Linked DNA regions of Homo sapiens: region 1 is linked to region 2. The links come from fine-mapping of genetic effects on gene expression. A gene starts in region 2. The other region holds a variant in brackets. All regions are shown on one strand. Distances are from middle to middle. Region 1 overlaps DDX43 (DEAD-box helicase 43). Region 2 holds the start of OOEP (oocyte expressed protein).

Region 1 (5,381 bases), 42 kb after region 2:
TCACTTGTCTAAGGAGATAAGCATTTGATTACTGAATACTTATTGCTCACAATAAAACAGGAAGCAATGATTATTTGAATGAGTGATCTATAAAGAATGATATCTCCTAGGCTTATATCCTTTATTAGTATAAATAACAACATTGGCTGGGCAAACTGGCTCACGCCTATAATCCCAGCTCTTTGGGAGGCCGAGGTGGGTGGATCACCCGAGGTCAGGAGTTTGAGGCCAGCCTGGCCAACATGGTGAAACCTCGTCTCTACTAAAAATACAAACTTAGCCGGGCATAGTGGCGCACACTTGTAGTCCCAGCTACTAGGAAGACTGAGGCAGGAGGATCGTTTGAACCTGGGAGGTAGAGGTTGCACTGAGCCAAGATCATGCCACTGCACTCCAGTCTGGGCAACAAGAGTGAAAATCTGTCTCAAAAAAAAAAAAAAAAGAATGATATATCCTGGGCTTATATACTTTGTCTTTATTAGTATAAATAATATAAAATTTAAAAAATACAAAATCCCCTCACATAGTTTTATTACAAATAACCTTCCTATTTCAAGAAAAGTGAATGTATTTATTTATTTTGAGACAAAGTCTCGCTGACACTCAAGCTGGAGTGCAGCAGCGCGATCTCGGCTAACTGCAACCTCTGCCTCCCGGGTTCAAGCAATTCTCCTGTCTCAGCCTCCTGAGTAGCTGGGACTACAGGCACACGTCACCATGCCCAGCTAATTATTGTATTTTTACCGATGGGGTTTCGCCATGTTGGCCAGGCTGGTCTCAAACTCCTGACCTCAGGTGATTCATCTGTCTAGGCCTCCCAAAGTGCTGGGATTACAAGCTTGAGCCACGATGCCCAGCCCAAGAAAAGAGAACTTAGATTTTATTGAATTACTGTGAAGGTATACAAAGTGGTCACTTTCATTATTTTATATATAGTTGAGGAAACATTTAAATGCAGATATTCTTTGATCAGTATATTTTGAAGGTTTGTTTTGTTTTGCGTTTTGAGACAGGGTCTCACTCTGTCACCCAGGATGGAATGCAGTGGCACCATTTTGCCTCACTGCAGTCTCAGCCTTCCCAGCTCAAGCGATTCTCCCACCTCAGCCTTCTGAGTAACTGGAACTACAGGTGCATGCCACCACACCCAGCTCATTTTTGTATTTTTTGTAGAGACAGGGTTATCACCATGTTGCCCATGCTAGTCTTGAACTCCTGAGCTCAAGTGATCCACCCACCTAAGCCTCCCAAAGTGCTGGGATTACAGGCATGAGCCAACAACCTTTTAAAAGATTTTTATGGCCAGGCGCCGTGGCTCACGCCTGTAATCCCAGCACTTTGGGAGGCCGAGACGAGCGAATCACGAGGTCAGGAGATCGAGACCATCCTGGCTAACACGGTGAAACCCCGTCTCTACTAAATTTACCCGGGAGTGGTGGCGGGCGCCTATAGTCCCAGCTACTCGGGAGCCTGAGGCAGGAGAATGGCGTGAACCTGGGAGGCGGAGCTTGCAGTGAGCCGAGATCACGCCACTGCACTCCAACCTGGGTGACAGAGCAAGACTCCATCTCAAAAAAAAAAAAAAAAAAAAAAAAATTTATTTGGCTTAAATACTTGGTATTGCCTGCTGACCCTATGAAAAATTGGAATTTTTTTGTCGTTTATAAAGGCCAGGAGATAAAATTAACCTAATAGTAATCCCTTTTAGTACCTTTTTTTCTTTTCTTTCTTTTTTTTTTTTTGAGACAGAGTCTCACTCTGTCACCCAGGCTGGAGTGCAGTGGCATGATCTCCACTCACTGCAACCTCTGCTTCCCAGATTCAAGTGATTCTTCTGCCTCAGCCTCCCGAGTAGCTGGGATTATAGGCACGCACCACCACGCCTGACTTATTTTTGTATTTTTAGTAGGCACAGACTTTCCCCATGTTGACCAGGCTGGTCTCAAACTCCTGACCTCAAGTGATCCGCCTCTCCTCAGCCTCGCAAAGTGCTGGGATTACAGGCATGAGCCACCACACACGGCCTTAGCTTTTCATAGATTAGTATTTAGTTGAAGGTGTACAGGTATCCTTTGGTTCATAAAAACCTAGTATTTATTTACTTATTTATGAGACGGAGTTTCGCTTTTGTTGCGGTGGCTGGAGTATAGTGGCACAATCTTGGCTCACTGCAACCTCCGCCTCCTGGGCTCAAGCCATTTTCCTGCCTCAGCCTCCGGAGTAGCTGGGATTACAGGCGTCCGCTAACACACCCAGCTGATTTTTGTATTTTCAGTAGAGACGTGGTTTTATCATGTTGGCCAGGCTAGTCTTGAACTCCTGACCTCAGGTGATCCACCCGCCTTGGCCTCCCGAAGTGCTGGGATTACAGGCGTGAGCCACTGGGCCCAGCCAAAAACCTATTTATTAAACATATTTGTTTCATCTAATAGCTTTACAGTAGTTGAGTAATTAGTGAATTAACTGTTAAATTTGCCTTACTTATTGAAAAAATAAGTACTAAATTTGTCTTTCATGAGTAACTTGGTTCATAGCATGCTTAAGGAAACATAGTAATGTTTTTACAACAAAATTGTAATGTTTGTAACTTGTATTCCCAGTGCTACATGGCCTCATTCAGTTCATCGCCTCGCACAATCTTATTTGAAAGAACCAATGATTGTCTATGTTGGTACATTGGATCTAGTTGTAAGCTTTTTTTTATTACTATTGTTTAACATTTCTTATGAAAATTCTGAAGATAGCTAATTTTGGTGTGCCTAGTCTGCCCACTCCCCAATTTTAGGGCAAATCACACTTGCATATAGTTTTAATAGAGCTGTAATAC[G/A]ATTATCTCATTTGAAATTTCAATAATCAGCTAATACCATCAACCTCTAGTCAGGGCCTATATATGTATAGAGAGAGAGAGAGAGAGAGTGTGTGTGTGTGTGTGTTTGTGTCAGAGTCTCACTGTATTGCCCAGGCTGGAGTGCAGTGGGGTGATCTCGGCTCACTGCAACCTCTGCCTCCTGGGTTCAAGTGATATATATATATAGTGTGTGTGTGTGTGTGTGTGTGTGTGTGTGCGCGCGCGCGTGTGTGTGTGTGCGCGTGCGTGCGCACGCATGTGCAAGTGATATATAGCGTGTGTGTGTGTGTGTGTGTGTGTCAGAGTCTCACTGTATTGCCCAGGCTGGAGTGCAGTGGGGTGATCTCAGCTCACTGCAACCTCTGCCTCCTGGGTTCAAGTGATTCTTGTGCCTCAGCCTCCTGAGTAGCTGGGGTTACAAACATGGCTACTACTCCTGGCTAAGTTTTGTATTTTAGTAGAGACAGGGTTTTGCCATGTTGGCCAGGCTGGTCTCAAACTCCTGACCTCAGGCGATCTGCCCCCTTGGCCTCCCAAAGTGCTGGGATTACAGGCGTGAGCCACCGCACCCAGCAAAGTCAGGGTTTATATTTTTCTGATACCTAATTTTAACCCTGTTAGAATCAGGGTCTAAACGTAGGTCTACATATATACATAAATATAAGTCTGTTCCCTTTATGAAGTTAAGACTGAATATTGGGTTCATGTGTTGTCAGTGGGAACCCTCCATTATAATATAAAGTTCTCTTTCTGGCTTTTTGCTTAATCATTAATAAATGAAATTGGCCTTTCACTTAATCATTAATAATAATGGGTCATTGCTTACACCCCTTATTTCATTAGAGATTTACAAATGGTGATCCATTTAACATTTGTTTTATAAAATGGTTAGCGACATTGCGCCACTGCACTCCAGCCCTGGCGACAGAGTGAGACTCTGTCTCAAAAATAAATAAATGAAATAAAATGATTAGAGACAAATAGTTGGTTGAAGGAATGGTACCAATAGTATTTTGAGGTTAAGTGACATCTAAGATACAAATCTTGAGTAGAAACAGGTAATTTTTTTAGGACGTCTGCCATTTTGCTTAGCAGTTTATTAAAAACATTAACCAATGAGAGAGAAGATGCATTTTGAGCTGATGTATGCGGTCTCACCCTCAATCATGATGACCTTGATGAACTATGTTCTTTGAATCCTTTAGGCTGTAAGTTCAGTGAAGCAAAATATAATTGTAACCACCGAGGAAGAGAAATGGAGTCACATGCAAACTTTTCTACAGAGTATGTCATCCACAGACAAAGTCATTGTCTTCGTTTCTCGAAAAGCTGTGTAGGTATTTTTTCTTGTGTGTCCATTATAATTAATTAAATTGATTAGGATCATTTCTATTTGTATACTAATTCCAAATGGGGGTGATAAGTCTGTTATGTTACTTTAGATTTTTGCTAACAGAAGTAAAACTGGTGGCATTAGAATAAGCACCTAAGAATGCTGAGTTTATCTTTTGCTTCAGTGCGGATCACTTATCAAGTGACCTAATACTTGGAAATATATCAGTAGAGTCTCTGCATGGAGATAGAGAACAGAGAGATCGGGAGAAAGCATTAGAGAACTTTAAAACAGGTATGTTTATGTAATTAGTATTTCATACAGTTTAAAATTAGTGCAATACCTGGGCTTGGCTGAGTAACATCTTTTCATGAAACCCATTTATTTCTAAGATCTGTCCTCACCTTCTGTATCCTACAACTACACTCATTAGAGCTCTAAACATTAATCTGCCTTTAAGTATTAAATAAACACAAGACTTTAAACTTGGATATCAAGGTATTAATATGCAACAGAAAATATATCTGAAGTTATCTGAAAAATGTATCTTTCTGTCATGGTTCGAAGGGTTTAGGACCCATTTGCTGAACCATGGTATCTTGTAACTTGCCGGCAGTTACTTTTCCATTTTCACAAAGTAAGCATTTTAATGTAAACAGTAAGAAATAAAATTGATTAAATTAGTTAGGGCAAATATTATTTTTAGATCTTGGGTTGGTTTATACCAGAATGGTTCAGTGTTCATTTGGCTTTACTTTTTAGGCAAAGTGAGAATACTAATTGCAACTGATCTAGCCTCTAGAGGACTTGATGTCCATGACGTTACACATGTCTATAATTTTGACTTTCCACGGAATATTGAAGAATACGTACACCGAATAGGGCGCACGGGAAGAGCAGGGTAAGTAAGCTTAGTCCACCCATGAAAGGCCAATTCTAGATTCTCCTTATTCCTCTCACAAACTTCTTGCCCAGAAAACCATTTTATTCTATTACCTATAATTTTTCAGCTACTTCCCAGATTATACTTGCTACTTTATTTATCCCTGTTCATTTGGCTTGTTCCAGACTCAACCAGATTCCATCCATGATTAGCTTCTTATATCTGGTTCTATGTGTTTTATATCTAGTGTCACCGCTGAGCTCTGTACCCAGTGGTTACTCTGAAGGTTATTGACAAATTGGTATGGATATGAGACG
Region 2 (5,381 bases):
CGGAGGTTGTAGTGAGCCGAGATCACACCACTGCACTCCAGCCTGGGTAACAGAGCGAGACTCCATCTCAAAAATAAATAAAAATAAACAATAAAAATCTCACCAGGAAAGCTGGGCACGGTGGCTCACGCCTGTAATCCCAGCACTTTGGGAGGCTGAGGTGGACGGATCACGAGGTCAGGAGATGGAGACCATCCTGGCTAACACAATGAAACCCCGTCTCTACTAAAATACAAAAAAAAAATTAGCCGGGCATGGTGGCGGGCGCCTGCAGTCCCAGCTACTCGGGAGGCTGAGGCAGGAGAATGGGGTGAACCTGGGAGGCGGAGCGTACAGTGAGCCGAGATTGCGCCACTGCACCCCAGCCTGGGGGACAGAGCGACTCCATCTCAAAAAAAAAAAAAAAAAAAAAAAGGAATGAATAAAGAAAAATGTAAAACTGAAACAAAGAAAATATTCAACATCACCTCTAATCAAAAAAGCACAATTAAAGAGACTTGTGAGTTTAAAACGCTTGCAAAAGGCTAGAATACTTTATTGCCAAGGAGTGAATAAATTCCATGAGTCAAACCAATCCAAACTGTGCTTGAACCCACAGGGCTTTTGGCACCTTTCGCCCCAAAAATTCTACTTCCAGAAAGTGGGGCGGCAAGGATAGGAGCTGTTTTGCAGAGATTGGTAATTTCAGTACAACACGTAGTGGAAAAACAACCTGGCCCATGCCGGACACCCGTGCAGCCTCGCCTTGTAGAAAAAGGTAGACAGCCGGCTCCAAGGCAGGGCGCCATCCACGAGCCAAGGTGCCTGGGAACCCTGCTCTTCCGTGGTAAATCGAAAACTACCATTAATGAACGCTGACCGCCCAGGCTTGCTTCTTGCAACGTCATCCTCTGCCCAATGGATGCCCCACTCCAGGAAAACGCACAGCTGGTGCTCTTCGGGGGATCAATTACCAGCTTCAAAGTGAGAGCCTCAGATAAGCTGCTTTAGTAGTATGTGTGAGCTCATCAGAAATGAAATTTTAAGCCCCACCCCAAAAGTACTGAATCAGAATTCTCTGGAGAAGGAGCCAAGGAAATTGTGTTTTAACAAGCTCCCAAGGTGATTTCTTACAAGCTTTAAAGTTTGAGGACCAATTATGTAAAAACAAAACAGATCACCATTTGTGAGGTTATCTGCCCCTGCATATCCGCTCCCTGTGGGTGAGGGCCTCTCTCTGACCAGAAAATCATAAAAGGATTAGGAGTTTCAAAATGATGGGAATTCAGGAAAAAAAAACAAAAACAAAAACCTACAAAACTATCACCTGCCCACCCTTCATATCAAAACATGAGTGGGAGTCAATCTTTTATAAATTTGCTTTATTATAAGTGTGTGAAGATCTTAATGCTTTTGGCAAAATAGCCATTTCTTTATTAGAATAGTTCAAACTCACTCTTGCAACAAAATAAACCACAATCCATCAAGACACAGGAAAAAGGAATACGGGGATTTAAGAATGCTATACTTGCTTTTCTTCAACTTTAGCAGCAAAAGTTAGAAAGTTAAGATGTTCCCAACAGTAACTATGTTGTCTTAAGCAACAGGATCCTGGGGAGAGTGGGGGTCTGATGCATGGGCCTTCAAGTTCTTCTCAAGGTGTTTCATCTTCTCAGCTGGAAGAGAAGCAGTTGATACTAACCATGGACAGGGACAAGTGTTTGCTGTTTCGAACTACTCCGTGACTGGGAGTTGGGGAGGAGAGAAAGATCTGCGATAGTGCTGTAACCCAGGTGAGGCTGACTTGGGCAGTGATGGGTCTGAATCTATCAGATCTCTGCTGACTTTCCCAAGGTCCTACCCCAGGATCCCCTCCCAACAAACTTCGTACAGCTAGCTCCCTGGGGTCTGGAAACCAAGAAATTTTGAGAAGGTTAAGGGAGGATGGAAGGAAACCGAGCAAGGCCAGTATGGTCACTCGTGGCTTCCTCCACATGCAGGTTCTCAAAGACCCTCACCTCGGGCACGATGTTCTCGGTGAAACCATGCCAGGCACAGGAGCATGCTCTTCACCCGATTCTGTACACGGGGCCGCCCGAAAACGGTGATTTCGACTAGGTTCCCTGAGTCCACTATGTCCACTGTCAGCAGGGCCTGGCTCGTCCACTCCATTTCTGGAATTATGGCTCGGTCTGGGCCTAAACAAGTAAGGAAAAACTCTGAGGGGCTGCACGGTGGCAGGTTAGAAGCTGGATTTGAAGGGAATGTTGGCCAGGGAAGGGAAGAACTGGAAGGTGGGCATCACTGCAACACTCCTGGCTTGCGAATCTGGGAAAGAGACTGTAGAGAGCTGCTCTGCCAAGCCTCTCTCAGACTGGAGGTGGACAGCCCACTAGCACACCTGGGGTCGCTCACCAAAGAGCTCGTCTGCCAGCCATGCCTCTAGGTAGAACACCAAAGGGTCTCTCAGTTCCTGCACCGGAAACCACCAGGGCCGGATGCGAATCTGTGGCGGCGGAAGTGGTAACCTACGCAGCTGCTCCAGGGAGTGGGCCGGAGTCTGTTTGCCCCGCTGGGACTCAGCGGCACCAGCATCATCGACCATACTGGGACCAGCAGCCGCGGAGCGCGCTCGAGGCGGCTTTCGCAAGACCTCTTCCAGACCCAGGCGCGAAGCTCGGGCTCTCTTTTACCATATTCGACCCGCTCCGCCCCTTCCGGCGGCGCCTCGCACCGCGTCGGGGTGAGCGGGTGCAAGCGACGCCCCGGCATAGCGGCACCATTGGACACTTCCTGCGCTGCTTCAATCGCCGGGATTGCCTCTTTGACCTTGAACTAGTATTCATTTGGCCTCCTGTTGGGTCTCCAATGCTCTCCTTCGTCATCTCTGCTCGTAAGGTATGCTTAGCCTGAAAGTCCTCTGCCCACCTTATAGCTGATTAACAGTGTGAGTTTGAATTGACGACTCTATTAATAGACTGGGAATCACCTTTGCTGGCTAGGTTAAGGTTTCATCGTTGCCTCCCAAAGATAGGTATATCGGACCCAGGGCAGGCTTGTTCAATGTGTCAGTTTTCTCTGTTCTGCTCCCTGTTGTTATCTTCTGACTCTCCGGATGGTTACCATTTTTAAATCATTCAAGCAAGTGTGTCATGTTTTAAACAACACGTCAGAGGTGGTCTTATAGAACATGTAGCAAGTTAGACAATTTTCCTTTATTTCCAGTATCCTAAGACAACCATTATCGATGGACATTTTTTCCCAATGTTTGTAATTTTAATTAAAAATTTGGATTATGAAAGGTTTCACACATCCAAAAAAGTAATATAACACGGCCATGTACCCTCCCCGAGTTTAACAGATGTTGACATTTCCCCACATTTGCCTCACTCCTCTGTTTTTAAAACAGATATTACTCAAGCATCTTTCCTTTCCTTCTCCAGAGGAAATCATCCTGAAGCTAGTGTGTATATATCATCCCCATGCATGTCCTTACACATTTTCTACTATATTTGTAGAAATATTGTTTGGTTGTTTCAGAATAGTATCTGCTGAATATACTATTTCGTTCTTACAATTAACTATGTGTTTGTTTTAAAACTTCTATTTTTCTGAGATAGGTCTCACTCTCTTGCCTAGGCTGGAATGCAGTGGCACGATCTCGGTTCACTGAAGCCTCGACCTCCCAGGCCTAAGCGACCCTCCCATCTCAGCCTCCTGAGTAGCTGAGACCACAGGCACCTGCCACCACACCCAGCTATTTTCCAGCTCTTTTTGTTGTTGTTGTTGTTTGTCTGTTTGTAGAGACAGGGTCCCACTATGTTGCCAGGCTGGTTTTGAACTCCTAGGCTCAAGCAGTCCTCTCACTTTGGCCTCCCAAAGTGCTGGGATTACAGGCGTGAGCCACCACAGCCAGCATAGAAGAAAAAACTCAAAATAGTGAAAAGCATGTTCCAGACTCCACATGATCATCTAGGACTGTGTGGAGGTTCCAGTTTTCTGCCCCTGATCCCACCCCCTCTCACCCTCAATGGTTTCTGAGAAAACTTGACTATCAGGTGTGCAGGGCATACTTACAGGAAAACAAGATTTAGCTATGGCTCTGATGCAATAAACATTTAAAACCTTAACCTGGCCAGGCAAGGTGGCTCATGCCTATAATCCCAGCACTTCGGGAGGCCAAGGCAGGAGGATCACTTGAGGTCAGGAGTTTGAGACCAGCCTGACCAACATGGAGAAAACCGGTCTCTACTAAAAATACAAAAATTAGATGGGTGTGGGCCAGACACGGTCACTCATGCCTGTAATCCCAGCACTTTGGGAGGCTGAGGCGGGCAGATCACCTGAGGTCGGGAGTTCGAGACCAGCCTGACCAACATGGAGAAACCTAGTCTGTACTAAAAATACAAAAGATTAGCCGGACATGGTGGTGCATGCCTATAATCCCAGCTACTCAGGAGGCTGAGGCAGGAGAATCACTTGAACCCAGGAGGCGGAGGTTGTCGTGAGCCAAGATCACACCATTGCACTCCAGCCTGGACAACAAGAGCAAAACTCTGTCTCAAAAATAAAAAAAAATAAAAATAAAAAAATTTGGCCAGTGTGTGGTGGTTACCTGCAATCCCAGCTACTCGAAAGGATGAGGCAGGAGAATTGCTTGAACCCCAGAGGCAGAGGTTGCAGTGAGCCAAAATGGCACCACTACACTCCAGCCTGGGCTACAGAGTGAGACTCCATCTCAAAAAACAAACAAAAACCCCTTAACCTAATCAAGGCCAGATATTGTGGCTCGTGCCTGTAATCCCAGCCCTTTAGGAGGTGGAGGCTAGCAGATCGCTTAAGCCAAGGGGTTTGAGGGTGCAGTGAGCCATGATCACACCACTGCACTCCTGCTTGGGTGACAGAGCGAGACCCTAAAAATAAACCTAAAAAAATTAAAGCCTTAATCTAATCATGAGACGCACTTACATTACTGTAGACAAAGAATATTTTACCCAGCATGTATAGAATTTTAACAGCTTCTTTAGGGGGACTGTGGTGATCTGAGCCACACAGGAATAAGTTAACTTCTCTCAAATTCCACTTCCTGGTGTGGAAAAGATGGCACCCCATTATCTTGTGGGGATCTTCTGCCATAAACCCCACATAAATCCCCAGCATGCTGGACACCGTGAAGCAGTTAGTCTCAGATACAACTCAGTCTCAGGTGTAGCCCAACAGTGGCTAGTTCAGTTATTTCTTCCTCAAGGAAGAAATGATCCTGTGGGATTACTGCTCTCCCCTGAGGAAAGAACCTCCCTGCTCAGTGAGAGGCCAGAATCTGATTCGCAAGTGTTGGTTTCGCATCTCTCAGCTTTGGGGAGACCGATAGGCCTTTGCACCTGAGCCTGCCAAAACAGGAG

Evidence for each region. PIP is the estimated chance that this variant, and not a neighbour inherited with it, causes the effect.
Region 1: its variant is the best candidate, but not a certain one, in a credible set for the expression of OOEP in visceral fat (GTEx, PIP 0.86).

What each region holds. Positions count from the first base shown.
Region 1 is chr6:73,409,605-73,414,985 of GRCh38, forward strand. It overlaps DDX43 (DEAD-box helicase 43), which reads left to right. Exons shown (of 17, transcript NM_018665.3): 11 at 2,601-2,688; 12 at 4,054-4,181; 13 at 4,366-4,475; 14 at 4,944-5,082. Among named protein-coding and RNA genes, the nearest start is that of DDX43, 17 kb to the left of the region's middle. The variant G/A (reference allele first, on the strand shown) is at 2,828.
Region 2 is chr6:73,367,209-73,372,589 of GRCh38, forward strand. It overlaps OOEP (oocyte expressed protein), which reads right to left and starts at 2,689. Exons shown (of 3, transcript NM_001080507.3): 1 at 2,395-2,689; 2 at 1,998-2,177; 3 at 1,347-1,655. The coding sequence starts at 2,584. The coding sequence ends at 1,576. OOEP-AS1 (OOEP antisense RNA 1) reads left to right here and starts at 2,496. Exons shown (of 2, transcript NR_174946.1): 1 at 2,496-2,877.